Homo sapiens: one gene and its partners. The protein of the gene in region 4 interacts with the protein of the main gene of each other region in a pairwise test. Each region holds a gene or a part of one and is shown on either strand. Other genes may lie near its edges.

The links. The genes of interacting proteins can lie anywhere in the genome.
Region 1: the proteins of KHDRBS2 (region 4) and PSMF1 interact in a two-hybrid assay, tested with the Homo sapiens proteins (one large-scale study listed by BioGRID and IntAct).
Region 2: the proteins of KHDRBS2 (region 4) and SULT1A3 interact in a two-hybrid assay, tested with the Homo sapiens proteins (one large-scale study listed by BioGRID).
Region 3: the proteins of KHDRBS2 (region 4) and ZFC3H1 interact in a two-hybrid assay, tested with the Homo sapiens proteins (one large-scale study listed by BioGRID).

What each region holds. Positions count from the first base shown.
Region 1 is NC_000020.11:1,128,533-1,132,916, reverse strand, and holds part of PSMF1 (proteasome inhibitor PI31 subunit), read right to left. Parts: intron 1-4,384. UniProt on the Homo sapiens protein: Plays an important role in control of proteasome function. Inhibits the hydrolysis of protein and peptide substrates by the 20S proteasome. Also inhibits the activation of the proteasome by the proteasome regulatory proteins PA700 and PA28.
Region 2 is NC_000016.10:30,197,778-30,202,869, forward strand, and holds the start of SULT1A3 (sulfotransferase 1A3), read left to right. Parts: upstream 1-1,477; 5' UTR 1,478-1,550; intron 1,551-2,947; 5' UTR 2,948-2,951; coding exon 2,952-3,099; intron 3,100-3,203; coding exon 3,204-3,329; intron 3,330-3,418; coding exon 3,419-3,516; intron 3,517-4,912; coding exon 4,913-5,039; intron 5,040-5,092. UniProt on the Homo sapiens protein: Sulfotransferase that utilizes 3'-phospho-5'-adenylyl sulfate (PAPS) as sulfonate donor to catalyze the sulfate conjugation of phenolic monoamines (neurotransmitters such as dopamine, (R)-adrenaline/epinephrine, (R)-noradrenaline/norepinephrine and serotonin) and phenolic and catechol drugs.
Region 3 is NC_000012.12:71,656,534-71,660,917, forward strand, and holds part of ZFC3H1 (zinc finger C3H1 domain-containing protein), read right to left. Parts: exon of another isoform or gene 3,838-4,384; intron 769-3,837; coding exon 352-768; intron 1-351. UniProt on the Homo sapiens protein: Subunit of the trimeric poly(A) tail exosome targeting (PAXT) complex, a complex that directs a subset of long and polyadenylated poly(A) RNAs for exosomal degradation. The RNA exosome is fundamental for the degradation of RNA in eukaryotic nuclei.
Region 4 is NC_000006.12:61,977,868-61,982,975, forward strand, and holds part of KHDRBS2 (KH domain-containing, RNA-binding, signal transduction-associated protein 2), read right to left. Parts: intron 346-5,108; coding exon 199-345; intron 1-198. UniProt on the Homo sapiens protein: RNA-binding protein that plays a role in the regulation of alternative splicing and influences mRNA splice site selection and exon inclusion. Binds both poly(A) and poly(U) homopolymers. Phosphorylation by PTK6 inhibits its RNA-binding ability.

The sequences.
Region 1 (4,384 bases), on a different chromosome or scaffold from region 4:
AACACAGGAAAATCAACTACATTTCTACACACTAACAATGAACATTTGAAAACCAAAACAAAGGACAGAATATGCCATTCATAATCATCTCCCTTTCTGCTTTAAACAAATAACAAGCTATGTACAGGATCTATATGTTGAAAATTACAAATGATACTGATGGAAATCAAATAAAACCTAAATATTAATAAATGGAGAGATAAGATATATCATGTTCATAGCAAGAATGTCAATTCTCCCCAAACTAATCTATAGGTTTAATGCAACTCCTATCAAAATCCTAGCAAGGTTTTTCATAGATATACACAAGCTTACTCTAAAGTTTATATGAAAAGGCACAGAGGCCAGGTGCGGTGGCTCACGTCTGTAATCCCAGCACTTTGGGAGGCTAAGATGGGTGGGTCACGAGGTCAGGAGATCGAGACCATCCTGGCTAACATGGTAAAACCCCGTCTCTACTAAAAATACAAAAAATTAGCCAGGCATGGTGGCACGCATCTGTAGTCCCAGCTACTCAGAAGGTTGAGGCAGGAGAATCACTTGAACCCCGGAGGCAGAGGTTGAAGTGAGCCAAGATCACACCACTGCACTCCAGCCTGAGCCTTTTTGAGACACAGTGAGACTCTGTCTCAAACAAAGAAAAAAAAAAAGAAAGAAAAAAGAAAAAAAAGAAAAGGCACAGAACCTAGAATAGCTACAACTACCTTGACGAAGAAAAAGTGGGAGGAATTATTCTACTCAATATTAAGGCCTACAATAATCAATACTGATAGAGTAATATTGACAGAGGAAGAGACATAGAGATCAATGGAAAAGAACAAGGGATCCAGAGATAGATCCACAGATGTACAGACAACTGATTTTTGACAAAGTTTCAAAAGTAATTCAATGAAGGAATAACAAATGATGTTGGGGCCATTGGACATCCATGGGTAAAAAATGAGCTGCTTGCCTGCCCAAGCTGGGTGGGAGGGTAAATTCAAGTCTTCTTTCCTTTTAATCAGATCAGAGGGAGGCCTCTGATCTCCCTAGGCATGTGTAAAATTCAGGCCTGATTAAAAAACCACCAGGTCCTGAAGGAGAAGTTCTCACACAATTTCTAAGCCTTGAAAGAACAACTGCCATTTTGGTTGTGGCAAAAGACAGCCTACCATCTCATCCGACACAGAAAGGGTACAGCAGAATGGAACACAATAGGTTTATATTTCTTAGCAAATCACAGTTTGCTCACTGAGGAGCACAAATTGCTGGAAGAGGCAAGACATGCCACAATGACCTAATAAAGAGGGCTACATGGAGGAAGCTATGGCTGAAAGGCATAGGAGGGAGACAGGGCCTCTGATCAGGAGGCAGAGCCATACCTCAGCTTTCACCGCCCATTTCCACGGAGATGACTCCTGGTGATCACATTTTTTTCCCCTTTGTGTATTTTACTAAGAGCTGGACTAAGCGCTAAGCACTCTATGTGCTGACATCTCATTCCATTCTCAGAAAAACCCTGAGGTAGTACTATTGTGTCCCTCATTTCACAGTAATCAAAAAACAAAACAAAACACAACACATATCCCCTCCCTCACACACAAACCCCTCAAACAAATGTACTTAAAAAACAAATAGAGACAGGATCACAATTCTCTTTCAGTATTGCTGAACAGACGGAATGCTCTAATGAGCATGAATGGCCAGTATAATTCCTAGGTTCTTCCACAGGTTTTGTCAATTTCTCTCCCAGTGGAAGTCCAGAGTGAAGAAGTCAAGAGACCACACTCCAAATGTCCCTCCCTTACCCACTAAGAGGGGCCAGGGTGTCAGGGAGTGTGCAACACCCAGAGGCGCGGCATTCTGCCGGCCAGGCCTGGCTCACTTCCCCCTTTCCTCAGAGGCGCAGCATTCTGCCGGCCAGGCCTGGCTCACTTCCCCTTCCCTCCCTTTGTCTATTGCATGCAGAAGACACCCAAACCCTGCCCTCAAGGAGATCACAGGCAAGGAGGGAAGACCAACCCTAAGAAGGTAAATGTAAAATATCTGATGGATTAAATGCTTAAAAAATGATGTTTTGATCCAGGGCAACACAGCAAAGACCTCATCTCTACAAAAAATAAAAAACTGGCTGGGCATGGTGGCACATGCCTGTAGACCCAATTATTTGGGAGGCTCAGGTGGGAGGGTCACTTGAGCCCAGTAGGTTGAGGCTGCTTGGCCTGTTTATAAGTGAGCTGATTGTGCCACTGTACTCCAGCCTGCCTGGGCAACAGAGGGAAACCTGACTCCAAAAAAAACATTTTACTAAAATGTTTTGAAGCTGTAAGCCTGGGGGCCAGAGGAAGCTTCTCTAAGGAACTGACGTTTAAATCGGTAACCAAAAGATAAACAGGAGTTGGCTACGTGAGGTCAGGGAGAGCACTTTAGACAGAGGGAAGAGGTCTGAAGAGGGCAGAAGAATGACACTGTGGCTGAAGCACAGGGATGCGGGGAAGGCAGTACAAGGTGAGATTGAAGGGGTGAATGCTTTAAGGCCTCATCAAGGATTGTGCTCTTTATCCTAACAGCAATGAGTATTCCCTAAAGACTTTTAACTGTGGTAAAATATGCATAAAATTTACCATCTTAACCATTTTTAAGTGTTCAGTACTGTTAAGTACATTAACACTGTTGTGCAATCACCTACCATCCATCTCCAGATCTCTTTTCATTTTGCAAAACAAACTCTGTACCCATTAATCACTAACTCCCCTTCCTATTCCCCTCTTGCCCCAGTATCTGGCAACCACCATCCACTGTCTGTCTCTACAAATTTGACTAATCTAGGTACTTTTAATAGAATCACACAGAATTTGTCCTTTTGTGAATGGCTTATTTAATTTAGTATAATGTCTTCAAGGTTCATCCATGTTGTAGCACGGGCCAGAATTTCCTTCCTTTTTAAAGCCGAATAATATTCTACTGTATTTACATACCAAATTTTGTTCATCCATTCATCTTATCAATGGACAGCCAAGCTGCTTTCACCTTTTGGCTACTGTGAATAATGCTTCTACGAACATGGGTGTACAAATATCTTTTCAAGACCTACTTTCAATTCTTTTGGGTATATGCCCGGAAGTGGACATGCAGGATTATACGGTAATTTTTTGAAGAACTGTCATATTGTTTTCCATAGTGGCTGCACCATTTTACATTCCCAAGAGTGCACAAGAGTTCCAATTTCTCCACATCCTTGACAACGCTTGTTTATTTTCTGGTTATTCTGATACTACCCATCGTAATGGGTGTGAAGCAGCATCACTGAAGGGTTTTAAGCCAGAGTTGTTAACTATGATCTGATCTATGTCTGAAAGACTGGTCCAACTGCTGCGTGGGAAATACACTGGAGGGTGGCATGCAGGAGGGGAATATGTAAAAGACCTCCTCACACAGAAGCTGCATGGAAGAGGGGAGGAGAAATGAGGAGTGGCCAGAATGTGGAGGCCAGTGGTTTGAAAGTCTGTGAGGACTGGAATAGGTTCAAAGAGGGTATTGCTGATTAGATACTATTAAATGCAACAGGGTTTCTGGGCAGTTCTGAGGTTCGGTTAAGGTTTGATAACTGTGCATTTATAGTGATGCCAAGCTCACTCTAAAACTCTGAGGGTGGCTAGGTGCGGTAGCTCACACCTGTAATCCCATCACTTGAGGTCAGGAGTTCGACACCAGCCTGGCCAACAGCAAAACCCTGTCTCTATTAAAAACGCAAAAATTGGCTGGGTGCAGTGGCTCACGCCTGTAATCCCAGCACTTTGGGAGGCCAAGGCAGGTGGATCACGAGGTCAGGAGATCGAGACCATCCTGGCTAACATGGTGAAACCCCATCTCTACTAAAATACAAAAAAAAAAAATTGCCAGGCGTGGTGGTGGGCACCTGTAGTCCCAGCTACTCGGGAGGCTGAGGCAGGAGAATGGCGTGAACCCGGGAGGTAGAGCTTGCAGTGAGCCGAGATCGCGCCACTGCACTCCAGCCTGGGTGACAGAGCAAGACTCCGTCTCAAAAAACAAAACAAAAAAACGCAAAAATTAGCTGGGTGTGGTGGTGCACACCTGTAATCCCAGTTACTCGGGAAGCTGAGGCAGAAGAATTGCTTGAACAGTCACACTGTACTCCAGCCTGGGTGACAGAACTAGACTCCACCTCAAAAAAATAAAATAAAATAAAAAATAAAACCCTGAGGAGGTCAATGAAGATGGGGGGAAAATCCCTATAATGGAATAAAGCAGACATAAATCAGCTTAACTATATATAAAACAGATAATTTCATTATACTGATTTTAAAAACAAGCACTAATCTAAGTACCTTTGGAACACACTACTCTGCCTACATCTTTTGTGGAACATAGTTAAAAGACAAAA
Region 2 (5,092 bases), on a different chromosome or scaffold from region 4:
AATTGAATGCAAATAGGACAAAGACCAAGGAGGATGGGGGGATGCCCTCCTTCCACGGGGCCCTGTGGCTTCCAAGTCTTAATCTCCTCTAGTCTCTTGTCTACGGAGCCTCCTTCAAACCCAGGGAAAGAAAATCACCTGCCAGGGTTGTTTTTCTTCTAGGATCTTCTATTGATGCTCTGTGAGGTCCCCCAGGAGCCATGAAGCTAGGGCTGGCTCCTAGGGCAATGGGACTACAGTGTCCTTGTCCTTTCTTATTCTTTCTGTTCTTTCTTTCTTTCTTTTTTTTTTTTTTTTTTTTTTTTTGAGACAGAGTCTCACTCTGTTGCCCAGGCTGGAGTGCAGTGGTGTGATCTTGGCTCACTGAAACCTCCGCCTCCTGGGTTCAAGTGATTCTCTTGCCTCAGCCTCCTGAGTAGCTAGGATTACAGATGCCCGCCATCATGCCCAGCTAATTTTTGTATTTTTAGTAGAGACAGGGTTTCACCATGTTGGCCAGCTTGGTCTCGAACTCCTGACCTCAGGTGATCCTGCTGCATCGACCTCCCAAAGTACTGGGATTACAGGCGTGAGCCACCACGCTCAGCCTCTTTCTTGTTCTATATGTCCATGCTCTGCTCCACTTCTGCCCCTTCACTCTGCCCCCACACATCACTCCAGACTGGCCTTGTGGTCAGAGCCTGGAATGCCTGGGCTGCTGGGGGCCTGTGGACTGCACTGGGCCAGAACCCCTGCCGCCTTCAAGACTGGCCTGTAGCCAGCAGGTAGGTGACTTTTCCCAGGCCGGCCTATCCCACCTTTCCCCTCCACTCACTCACCTCCCTTGCCTGGGTCAATTAGAGAAAGCTTGTCGGCCAGGCATGGTGGCTCATGCCTGTAATCTCAGCACTTTGGGAGGCCGAGGCGGGCGGATCATCTGAGCTCAGGAGTTTGAGACCAGCCTGGCCAACATGGCAAAACCCCGTCTCTACTAAAAATACAAAAATTAACCGGATGTGGTGGTGTGCACCTGTAATCCCAGCTACTCGGGAGGCTGAGGCAGAAGAATCGCTTGAACCCAGGAGGGGGAGGTTACAGTGAGCGGAGATCGTGCTACTGCATTGCAGCCTGGGCGAGAGAGCGAGTCTCCATCTCATATAAAAAAAAGAAAAAGAAAGAAAGAAAGCTTGTCTGTTGGCCTGCCCTGCAGGGTGGAGTTCAGAGGGAAGGTCAGGAGCCTAGTGACAGCTCAAAAAAAAAAAAACCCAAATACCAATGTTGGCCCCTTTTGCCTTTCATTCATGTGTTTTCTATACACTAAACTCACATATTGGGTTTGCAGATCACTCCAAGCTTGGCTGGAGCTGTGGTGGTAAGGAGGGTAATAGAGAAGCTTCCCCACCCTCAACCCCACCCCTTCCTTCCTGGAGTTCCCAGCCCTGACTTTAGATCCCTCCCACACTGGACCTTCAAAACCCTCAGGGCAGAGAGCAGCCCTACACTCCCTACACCACACCCATACTCAGCCCCTGCAGGCAAGGAGAGAACAGGTCAGGTTCCCGAGAGCTCAGGTGAGTGACACGTTGGAATGGCCCAGGGCACCTTCACCCTGCTCAGCTTGTGGCTCCAACATTCTAGAAGCCGAGGCCTCTGCCATCCCTGCCCTTTCCCATGGATATTCCATTTCAATTAGACAACCCAGCCTGGCCGGAATCCCCCTGCGTTCCTTCTTTTCCTTTGTGTATTTTTGAGACAGGGTGTTGCTCCGTCACCCAGGCTGGAGTGTAGTGGGATCCTGGCCCACTGCAGCCTCAAATTCCTAGGCTGAGGCAATCCTGCCGCCTCAGCCTCCTGAGTAGCTGGGGTTACAAGAGCAAGCCACCACACCCAGCTAATTTTGAAAAATATTTTTTGTAGAGGAGAGGTCTTGCTTTGTTGTCCAGGTTGGTCTCAAACTCCAGGGCTCAAGGGATCCTTTCCCGTTGGCCTCCCAAGGCTCTGGGATTACAGGCGGGAGTCACCCTGCCTGGGCCCCTCCTTTTGATGAGTCATCAGTTTTCATTCCCGCACGAGGCTCTAGCCCCTGGTACCAGCTTAGTTGCTCAATGGGCTGTGTTTGTTCTGGAGCCCAGATGGACTGTGGCCAGGCAAGTGGATCACAGACCTGGCCGGCCTGGGAGGTTTCCACATGTGAGGGGCATGAGGGGGGCTCAAGGAGGGGAGCATCGGGGAGAGGAGCGCACTGGGTGGAGGCTGGGGGTCCCAGCAGGAAATGGTGAGACAAAGGGCGCTGGCTGGCAGGGAGACAGCACAGGCAGGCCCTAGAGCTTCCTCAGCACAGCTGGACTCTCCTGGAGACCTTCACACACCCTGATATCTGGGCCCCGCGCTACGAGGGTGCTTTCACTGGTCTGCACTATGCCCCAGGCCCTGGGATTTTGAACAGCTCTGCAGGTGACTGAAAGGTGCGGCCAGGCTGGGGAACGACCTGGTTTCAGCCCCAGCCCCGCCACTGACTGACTTTGTGAGTGCGGGCAAGTCACTCAGCCTCCCTAGGCCTCAGTGACTTCCCTGAAAGCAAAAACTCTGCAAAGGGGCAGCTGGGTGCTGGCTCACACCTGTAATCCCAGCACTTTGGGAGGCTGAGGTAGACAAATCACTTGAGGCCAGGAGTTCTAGACCAGCCTGGCCAACATGGTGAAACCCCATCTCTACTAAAGAAAAAAAAAAATTAGCTGAGCATGGTTGTACATGCTTGTAATCCCAGCTACTTGGGATGCCGAGGCGGGAGGATTGCTTGAACCCAAGAGGTGGAGTTTGCAGTGAGCTGAGATTGTGCCACACTGCACTCCAGCTTGGGTGAGAGTGAGACTCCATCTCAAAAAAAAAAAAAAAAAAGAGAGAATCCCACTTTCTTGCTGTTGTGATGGTGGTAAGGGAACGGGCCTGGCTCTGGCCCCTGATGCAGGAACATGGAGCTGATCCAGGACACCTCCCGCCCGCCACTGGAGTACGTGAAGGGGGTCCCGCTCATCAAGTACTTTGCAGAGGCACTGGGGCCCCTGCAGAGCTTCCAAGCCCGACCTGATGACCTGCTCATCAACACCTACCCCAAGTCTGGTAAGTGAGGAGGGCCACCCACCCTCTCCCAGGCGGCAGTCCCCACCTTGGTCAGCAAGGTCGTGCCCTCAGCCTGCTCACCTCCTATCTCCCTCCCTCTCCAGGCACCACCTGGGTGAGCCAGATACTGGACATGATCTACCAGGGCGGCGACCTAGAGAAGTGTAACCGGGCTCCCATCTACGTACGGGTGCCCTTCCTTGAGGTCAATGATCCAGGGGAACCCTCAGGTGCATGGCTGGGTCCTGGGGGTAAGGGAAGTGGAGGAAGACAGGGCTGGGGCTTCAGCTCACCAGACCTTCCCTGACCCACTACTCAGGGCTGGAGACTCTGAAAGACACACCGCCCCCACGGCTCATCAAGTCACACCTGCCCCTGGCTCTGCTCCCTCAGACTCTGTTGGATCAGAAGGTCAAGGTGAGGCCGGGCTCAATGGTTCACACCTGTCATCCCAGTTTGAGACTGAGGAGGGAGGATCCCTTGAAGGCGAGAGATGGAGACCAGCCTGGGCAACATTGCTGTAGAGATGACATCCCATCTCTACAAAAATAAAATTAACAACCTGGTATGGTGGCATAGACTGTTCCCAGTTACTTAGGAGGCTCAGCGGGGAGGACTGTTTATGCAAATAGGAAGCTGCAATGAGCCCTGATGATCCTGCTGCTGCACTCCAGCCTGGGCAACACAGCAAAACCATCTCTACGAAAAAAAAAGTTCCCACTGACTGGCAAGGAAAGCCAGGAAGGGGGGCTCAGGTGCCCTCTCAGCCATGTACCTGTTCTTCTGGAAGGGCCTCCTCGCTTCTGCCAGGCTCATCACATCTTTTTTTTTTTTTGAGACAGAGTCTTGCTCTGTCACCCTGGCTGGAGTGCAGTGGCATGATCTCAGCTCACTGCAACCTCCGCCTCCCCAGTTCAAGTGATTCTCCTGCCTCAGCCTCCTGAGTAGCTGGGATTACAGGCGTGTGCTACCACACCCGGCTAATTTTTGTATTCTTTTTAGTAGAGACGGGGTTTCACCATGTTGGTCAAGTGGATCTCAAACTCTTGACCTTGTGATCCTCCTGCCTCGACCTCACAAAGTGCTGGAATTACAGGCGTGAGCCACCGCGCCTGGCCCTTTTTTTTTTTGAGACAGTTTCACTCTTGTTGCCGAGGCTAGAGCGCAATCGTGTGATCTCGGTTCACTGCAACCACCGCCTCCTGGGTTCAAGCAATTCTCCTGCTTCAGCCTCCCAAGGAGCTGGGATTACAGGTACCTGCCACCACGCCCGGCTAATTTTGTATTTTTAGTAGAGATGGGGTTTCACCATGTTGGTCAGGCTGGTCTTGAACTCCTGACCTCAGGTGATCTGGCCACCTTGGCCTCCCAAAGTGCCGGGATTAGAGGCATGAGCCACCACGCCCAGCCTTCATCACATCTTGAGAGAGGACACTGTCTGCCTCTTGCTCTGATGAGGGTCTGATGCAAGGATAGTGAGTCTCTACAGTGCACACTTAAGAAAGGCAGCATGTGGGTGCTCACAGGTCAGCGGAGGAGGGGGAGCTGGTGGGGACCAGGCATGCCTTGCTCCAGATCAGGATATGATGGCATTGGTGCAGATTATATTAGTATAGAATATGGTCTCAGGAACCAGGCAGGACTTTGGCTTCCGAGCAGGGTTCAGATCCCAGCTTGGCCCTACCTGTGCAGTGAGATCTCAAGCAAGTCAGCCTCTAAGCCTCAGGTTCCTCCTTTGCCAGTTCAACAGATGAGCTGGCCTGGGGTGGGCTGTGTGGTGATGGTGCTGGGGCTGGGTCCTCTGCCCCTGCAGGTGGTCTATGTTGCCCGAAACCCAAAGGACGTGGCGGTCTCCTACTACCATTTCCACCGTATGGAAAAGGCGCACCCTGAGCCTGGGACCTGGGACAGCTTCCTGGAAAAGTTCATGGCTGGAGAAGGTGGGCTTGACTGGAGGAAGGAGGGTGTGAAGCCGAGGGGTGGTGGCTATAAC
Region 3 (4,384 bases), on a different chromosome or scaffold from region 4:
TAAAACCCTCCTTTACCCGATAAGGGATACCTACAAAAAAATTAACATCATATTTAATGGTAAATGTCAAAACCATTTTCTTTAAATTAGGAAACAAAGGTGTCCACTATTATCACTTATGTATAACATTCTATTATAGAGGCCAGAATGTCAGGCAAAAAATAAATAAATAAATAAAGACTAAAAGTAAACAAAATTAGTAATTATTCAATGATATGAATGTCTACATAGAAAGTACAAAAGAATTTACAGATAATTACAATCATTTCAATGAAGTACACTGCCAAAACAAGTAGTTACTACTTTAGAGGAAGAAGAGTCATTACTAACTGAAATATTTAATTCCATTACCTTGACTAGAATCAGTAGTGTCGGATTTCAGGGAAAGTGGTTTTGCTCCATCTTTAACTTTTTTCAAACGGTTCTTATCTCCTGGTAAAGTCAATTTTTGCCTGAGTGGTTTTAATTCAAATGCCTGAAAAGTTTTGACTTGTGTTTTCTCCTCAGGAGCTACTTCTTTACTTGAATCCTTTGTAATACTGACATTATCAGTGCTAGTTTGGTCCTCGAAGTTCAATGTTTTAGGATCTTCCTGCACATTCTCTTCTTTGCTACTCAATGCTAGTTTTTCATCCTTATTGATGCATTCTAGTTCCAACTGTATTTGTTTATACTTTAAAAGCAAATCTTCAAAAGTTTCTTCCACACAGTTTTCATTTTTTGATGAATAATTTTGTTTTCTTGATGGAGACCTTCCAAAACTTTTGGCTGAACAGCATATTAAGGAAACCAGTTTCCAAAAATTTTCCACAGTTAAATTTAACAAAAAAACTTAGATTATAGATGAATTTTCTCCCTTTTTAATTTTTCAAGAAAAATGAATCGATATTTTTAAATTACTAAATTCCATTTAATGTATGTGCAGCTAATGCCCACTTTCATTACGTGCCCATATTTGAATTTAGTAAGTACCATATAAACAGTCCACTTACAAAATCACTAGTGTCATAATTACCAGTAGTATCCACAGACAGTCCACCTAGTTAGGTTATAGCATCATTCCTTCTGTGCCAGGAAAGTCCATAATTAGCTGTATGTTAGAGATTATTTTCTGAAGGAAGAGGGGAGAAACTGAATGCTTTGTCACAGATGCGGATAGTTTACACTTCAGGGGGCCAGGCGCGGTGGCTCACGCCTGTAATCCCAGCACTTTGGGAGGCCGAGGCAGGAGGATCACTTGAGGTCAGGAGTTTGAGACCAGCCTGGCCAACACAGTGAAACCCCATCTCTACTAAAAATTAAAAAATTAGCCAGGCGTGGTGGTGCAGGCCTGTAGTCCCAGGTACTTGAGACGCTGAGGCAAGAGAATTGCTTGAACTCAGGAGGCGGAGGTTGCAGGGAGCCAAGATCACACCACTGCACTCCAGCCTGGGCAACAGAGGGAGACCTCATCTCAAAAAAAAGAAAAAAAAAAACACTTTAAAATAGTACTCAAAATATATCTATTTTTCTCCTACAGACAAGGGAAAATGTTATGAAAATAATCTGAAGCAACTGTTCTTACTTTCTTCTCTAACACAGTGATACACAAAAGGTAACTTTTTCCTTAGAAACAGCTACAAAATTTCAAACTACAATTTTTATTCTAAACAATTCATACACGAGAATTGTTATACCTCATTTTTCCAGGCCAGATATTAGCAAGAGAAAAGACAGTACCTCCTGTGGTTTTAATACATCATTTATAGATTTTTTTTTTTTTTTTTTTTTTTTGAGACAGAGTCTCGCACTGTCAGCCAGTCTGGAGTGCAGTGGTGCGATCTCGGCTCACTGCAACCTCCGTCTCCCAGGCTCAAGCAATTCTCCTGTCTCAGCCTCCTGAGTAGCTTGGATTACAGGTGCGTGCCACCATGCCCAGCTAATTTTTGTATTTTTAGTAGAGATGGAGTTTCACCATGTTGACAAGGCTGGTCTTGAAATCCTGACCTCAGGTAATCCGCCCACCTTGACCTCCCAAAGTGCCGGGATTACAGGTGTGAGCCACTGCACCCAGCCTATAGATTATTTTCAGTTGGCTAGGATGTAAAATACAGTACCCCAAATACGGTTCTTCTGTTTAAACACCTCACAGGGCAAGCAGCAGAAAAGGTTTTTAAACTCTCCTGATGACCAGTTCTAAAAATGAGAATTACCATCATCTAAGAAACAAAAATAAGCAATAAGTACATCTGAAAATCTTAACAGTTCTACAGCAAAACTGTTCTAGTAAATCTCTGGTTCTCTGATCTCTTCAAAGCCAAGTATCCTGAAAGAAAACTAGTTTCTCTGTACCCTTCTTACCAAATGGAATCTGGTTTCTGTCCCATTAATCTAGAGAGACTGCTGTGGCTAAGTTTCCCTATCAATGTTTTCAAACTTTATTTTTTTTTACCTGACCCCTCTGAGAATCTGACACCATAAACCACTTCTCTCTTGGCTTCCATAACTCCGCATCTCCCTTTGTTTCCCTATTTGTGTTTTGTCTTTTAAGTCTCCATTGAGTCTTTTCTCTCTAACTTGTGAAATAATGGTGCTCTTCAGGGAGCACTACTTAGCCTCTTTCTCATTTTGAGCATTCTAATGCACCTCCACAGTTTTACCTACCACAGGAGAGTTTACCCTGGTGATAAGATATTTCTCTTATCTCCTACAAGCCATCCTTCATACTGCTGCTGCCAGAGTAATCTTTCTAGAATACAAATATAAGATCATTCCCCTTGTTTAAATTTCCCTAATAAAAAAGTCCAAAATCCTGAGAATAAATATAATCTGACCTGTGCTTTCCTTTCCAAACTTACTTTTTCCTTGTTCATCACAATTTTTGCATAGCTTTGTGTCTAAGTTTGTCTGTTCTTCAACTTAACCCCAATTCAAGTGTCACCTCTGTGAAGCCTGAGTTTCTCACTCTCCCTTCCCCTCTTACACACTCTTTGTATGTAAGTTCTGTAATTATCTGCATTTACATCTTACTTTTCACTGGAGCCATTTAAAGGCACAACTGCAATTAAAAAAAAAAGAAAAGAAAGGGAAATGATTAAATACACTAACAAAAATGCTAAATAGAAAAATAAGGAAAAGCAATTGAGTTACAACTATAACTGACTAATCTCCTTCAAGGCTAAAGAAAATCTATCCCTATCTATACAGAAGCCTAAGATCAAACCAACACTTACCAGATTTAATTTTAAGCTTGTCAAGATACAATTTCTAACTGAACCTTGGTTTAAACAAAAAGAAGTGCTATTCAACCTTTTCAGCTGCAGCTGAAAATGGAATGACTTTTTACTGATGAGAGACACTAGCCTAATTATGTTAGCTCTCCTCAGATTTGAAAGTTTAAAAGAGTAGTCATTCAAGGGAGACATGCTAAGATGTACTGACAAAGTGTCTATCATTAAGAAAAATTAAGGGTGAAAATAAGAACTGCAATTGAATCTAGTTTATTCTATTTCTTTAAAGTTGCAACTAGCATATCTTAGTTATTACAGTGAAAGGAGTTATGGCAAAAATAGAAATAAACCCTATACTCAGGCTACTTTACTTCTAAATTACAGAAATATGCCACAGAGTAACCTGCATTCTTTCTTTATACAGTATTTGTAAAATAAAAAAGGTATTATTATAATCACATAGTGGAAATATGAATTAAACTGAGTACAACCTTGATATTAAATAAATTTGAATGAAGTGTTGTAACAAATATTTTGTTTGCTCACATTATATAAAAGTAGCTGGGAACTACGTTTTCCTTCTCAAATTCTTAAAAAGAACACCACCTCTAGGATGGATTACTGATACTTCATAGGGAAAACAATGAGCAGGACATCAAAACAAGCATCCTTTTAAGTGCAGCATCTGTGAAAAGAAAAACAACAAGATATCTTATTTATGACAAGTTACTACGGAAATCAAAGTCACACAAGCAGACTGGATATTTTCTGGTACTTTTTTTTTTTTGCAACATCATATGCCAGTTTACTAATAAAAACATGCAAGCTTACCAATTAATAAAGGTCTATGGTAGAGGCCCAAAATAGTATTGAATAAACACGCAGAAAGAGGACAAAAGCAGAAAGCCCACTCACCTCCCCCTTTTCTAATACAGAATAAAAATTTTAAGAAAAACCTTTGAGCTCCCATAGTACTTTTTTATATACATACTTCAGTTTCAACTTTTTATACTAAACTGCAACTACTTATTTTCATTTGTTTCCCTAATACAAACTACAGGTTTCATCTTTGTACCTTTAAAAAACACATATAAACTGGTGGCTCTCGCCTATAAATCCCAGCACTTTGGGAGTCTAAGGAAGGAGGATCTCTTGAAGCTACAAGTTCAAGATCA
Region 4 (5,108 bases):
ATCACTATATGGCAACACGCCAGGTCCTGTGTTAAGTGGTTTTGGTATCCTATTTTATTTTTTAGCTTTGTATCGACCTGTGGATAGATCATTGGTTTGCAATATGAGTTTCCTTTTAAAAAGTCAGTGAAGATCAAAGGTGCATTTTAAAATAGAAGCTGATAAGAAACATCTTTGTAAAAAATGAAAGACACTTACAGGAACCAGGAATTTTTTAATCTCTTCCAATGCATGACTCATACGTGAATAAGCTTCCCCAGGTGGAGCAAACACTTCAATTAATACATGAAGCTCATCACTCAAGTGGGCATATTTGGCTTCCCCACTCTTCCTTAGTTCTTCTTCCTGTGAAAAAGGTTATTTTTAGAAATACAAATCCACTCATTTTACATTGATTTAACATTTACTGAGAATATGACAAAGGTGTATAATTTAAGCAAATTTTCCATAATTTGCTTCCATAATTTTCTCAAAGAAACCCTTTGAGAAATAAAAATCTGCTACAAGCCATTTAAAGATTTTAAAATCATTTTTGAGTGTTTGAATGATTTTAAAAACCGGCATAATTATCATCTACAACAGATTTTAATCAGCTAAATGAAAATGCTAAACCCCTGAAAATAAGTCACAGAATTGCCATTAACACTGTAGTCTACATGACTACATTCTGGAAGGGAAGAATTGTTTTGTGCTTGATGTTCAGCATTTTGCAGATGGTAAGTGAAAGATTATCACTGTGTTCTTTAAGAAAACTAAAACTTTCTAGCCACTTTTTGAGAAGTTAGGAAGGTTACTTGATTGTGATAAAAAGTAGGGTAACTATACAAGTCAAGGCTTATTTCCAAGTCTATGTTCTCACCAGCCCAGATTATCAGCAAGCCTTATACCCACAGCTTTTCTATCGCTTGCTGCCTTTATTTATTTATTTTGTCAACAGGGGAATATTAAAGGGTGGTTTAACATTTTGCTGGCATTGATTCTGCATGGGCTACGTAACTTCTGGTTAACCAATAATACTAGGTTGGTGGAAAAGCAATTGCCATTAATTGCTTTTAATGGCATTATTTTTAATGGCAAAAACCATAATTGCTTTTGCACCAACCTAATACATTTCTATTGGAAGAGACTTTTCCTAGTATTGTGCCCAAGCCATTATTGAAACCTGGTTAATTCAGTGCAGGTGTACAGCAAATCAATATGTGATCCATATATTTTGTTAATGTATACTAAGTATTTTATACATATCATCTCTAATCAAAATCATTTTGTACATATTCACATGTTTCAGATTATGAAACTGTGGTTAGAAGACTTAAATAGCTTCAGCCAATTCAGATCCAGACCCAGTTCATTTTGCAAGCAGATTTGCATTTTTTAGAATTTCAAGATGTAAAATGTGGCAGAAAAGTTAACATAAATAACATTAATTATGTTTTATCTTTCTTGTCCCTCACAGAAACAACCAGCAGCTACTTCACTAAATTTCAAAAAATAAAACTAAACATGTAATTCTTGGTTTTATGTAGAGATTAGAGACATGACATGAATAGACCTTACCTGGATTTAAAAAAGAACAAATTTGCTGTTGATGTCATGTGAGTTAACTGTATAACCCATGTTAATGTGAGTGTTTACTTGATTAGAAATGCTCATTGTTTTAAAAGATGAAGGATCCATGAAAGAGATGGGAAGGCATCCCTGCGTTCCTGTATATATACCCTTCACCTACTCAAATACTTCTGATAATAGCACCTTGCAGCCTGGAAATCCATTCTTCACTTCTCTAAGGATACTTTCAAACTCTACCTAGGACTTTTCAACTTGAGAGCTTTTCTTAGTGCCCAATTATCAGTTTGGGGAGGAGAGGCAACACTACACTGAATGAAAATACTCTCATGAGGTGTAGTAAAGATTTCTTTTCTCTTTGGGTCCTGCTAAGGTGCAAGCTGCTTGTTTATTCTGGGGCCAGCTGGTTTGGGCATACATGCTGAAATAATTAAATCAGAGATTTCTTGACACTGTCCCTTTCTATTACTTCCTATGTTGATTCCCATTCAGTTATTTTTGTGTTACCCTCTCCTTACACCTAGAATTTCCTAGGGAACTGAAATAATTTTCAACTCTATTAAGCAAAATAATATGGTCATTGAGTGACATTTCCTAGAGTGACATGACTAGCTCATTATGGAGCTCAATAAAATAAAGAAAACAGCAGTTAATTGACCCTACTCTCCTTGGAAGATCATCATTTGCTACTTGGGATGACCCTTCGGAATCACATCTTCCATAAGCAGTGTATCCAATAATTTTATAAACCCATACTGCTCTTTGTAGGAAGATTATTGTGCAGGAAAGTGATCTAAGTTGTCAAGTTAAGAATAGTAGCTACCTGCTTTTTGTATTTTTATGAAGAATATATCATAAATTGTTCATAATCTAATGTGGAACACATATTCCTCCTTTGTTCTACTCCAGGTGCTGGTATTTTGCCCTTCTAGATCCTCCTGTGAGGCATCACACCATCACCACCACCACCAGAAAAATAACTCCTGAAAGTTTAGAATGTTAGTGGGAAATAACTCTTATATTGCATTGATATGAAAAATTGTAGAAGTTTTATAGAAAATAAGTCTTATGTTGCCTGGTCAAAGCTGGCTACATTTGAATGGGTTTCTTTATAAAAATTTGTTTTAATAGACTTGTGATCTGAGGGATCAAAATTGATGCCCATTTATCAAACAAGATGGGCCTAAGGCTAAGGAAACAAAAGTTACTTAGGAGTCCAGTGTTCAGGACCCAGATGGCATGGCAAATTTCCAAATTCCTACCACTATAAGGAAAACTACACCTCAGCTAAACTTCTTAACAACAGAGCTCTCAGGCTGATTTACAGCCCAAACCACCACAACTCTGCAGGACAGAGGACTGACTTTACAAATATTCTTTTCTGATTAGCTATTGCAGAACTTAAGCCAGTTTCAGCCAGCTTATAGGGACTGCACACAAACTGTCTTTGTGTACTACAGTTCACCTTTTGACATAAAGAGCTGAATTCCATGTCATTTCAATGCTAAAACCTCACGTCAGAGTGAACATGGGATGTATGTTATACACATGTTTACCCACTGGGCATGCCCTCTCATAAATACATATAGCTTTTCCCCCAAAACATGCTGAATATGTATAATACAGGCCCTGTGAGGCATAAGACCTAACCTGTCATTCCCTTCTTTAAATAAAGAGCACCTTAGATCCACACTGGAGAGTTTCTCTTCTCAATTTGCAAGTTAATGCCAATAAAGCTCTCCTTTCTACTATTTAGCCATCCTGGTGGTCTTTCAAATGACAAAATGTATATCAAAAGATTACTGATTCAAAACTAGAGTTTGGTTTTTCTCTGTTAAAACAACAAAGTTTTCTTGGATTACTGGTCTGCCCTTAATAAGAAATTATAAAACTTTTTCTTTACCTGTTAAGTAATCTGCCTAGAAAACATTCTGTGTCTTATCAGAATAATTTCCTACGCTTTATGTTAACATTTATCACATCTTTAATTATTTATGAGAACCAAGTCCTCTCACTTAAAAAAAAAAAACTGAGTTTTTTTTTAATTTATTTGTTTGTTGTTGCTGTTTTTCTCTCTGCAAGTATGTTACCTCGTATACTTACTTTTGAAATCTTGTATTGTCACTTAAGTAAGTGGATAACTAAAGTATTGTTTCACAGTGACCTGTGATCCTATTTAATGCAGTGTTCAATCTTTTGACATTTTTGACAATTTGCAAAAATCAAATTCTAAATGAAGTCTGCTTGACCCCAAACCAACTTAGATTTTTCAGAGAGCCCCTGGAAAATCTCTAAGGATTCATGTTCTCTCACTTTGTAAAAAGAGAGATGTTAAACTAATTAGGTTCATTTGATATGTTAAAATGTATGGGAAGCATTGTCAAATAAGAAGAGTTACTTAAATTTCCTTATATTTGTATGGGTAGATTTTATTGTTTCAGAAATTTTATGAAGTTCCTAGGAATTGGTCAATAACCTTGATCTCCCTGATACGTCCTGGTATAATGTAGTCAGTCATAATTCTATGATTTAAATTCCATAAATTAAATATTGTATTCCACAGAAACCACCAAAATCCTTTGTCAACTGTGTTATAATGAATTCACGTCAGATATTTAACATAGCCATTTTAAGCTTTTTGTCATTCATAGGTAGTTACTATTAATACCAAACTAAGAAGCAAATGCTCCACTCAGATGTGGCTGATGACAACAGTGTCAAATTCTTGTGAATTATGTAATTTACCCTAGGTAATGTGATGAAGAAATAAAGTCACTGCAAATATATATATATATCTTACTCTGATGCTTTCCTGAAAGCTCTTGGAAGCAGCTACTGGATAGCATGCTTTGTCTTTACAAAACGGGATTCCCTCTGAGACCCACGGAAATGACTATAACAGGTACTCTGGGATGCAACCTTCTGATGTCATTATTTAAATACTTTTAAGAAAAGGGGCCGGGCGCGGTGGCTCACGCCTGTAATCTCAGCGCTTTGGGAGGCTGAGGAGGGCGGATCACGAGGTCAGGAGATCGAGACCATCCTGGCTAACACAGTGAAACCCCGTCTCTACTAAAAATACAAAAAATTAGCCGGGCGTGGTGGCGCATGCCTGTAATCCCAGCTACTCCGGAGGCTGAGGCGAGAGAATGGCATGAACCCGGAAGGTGGAGCTTCCAGTGAGCCGAGATGGTGCCACTGCACTCCAGCCTGGGCGACAGAGCCAAACTCTGTCTCAAAAAAAAAAAAAAAAAAGAACATACCACAAGACTGATTAAAGATTTTCAGAACTATAGTGGAGACACTGAGGAGTTCATAAGACCCCTCATAAAGTTAAGCAGAACAAGAAGTAATTATATGGGCCTCAGTAGACTAAGAAAGGGTGATTATAATTTGTTATGGCCTTTGTTTGAAACAGTACTGGTTCTTTAATGTCCTGTTTTCTGAATTTAAGGAACTCTTTTCTCTTTTCTCAAGCTATTTATACTTCATACCATTTGAATTGATGATACTTTTATAAACAGAAATGAAATATTTATCTT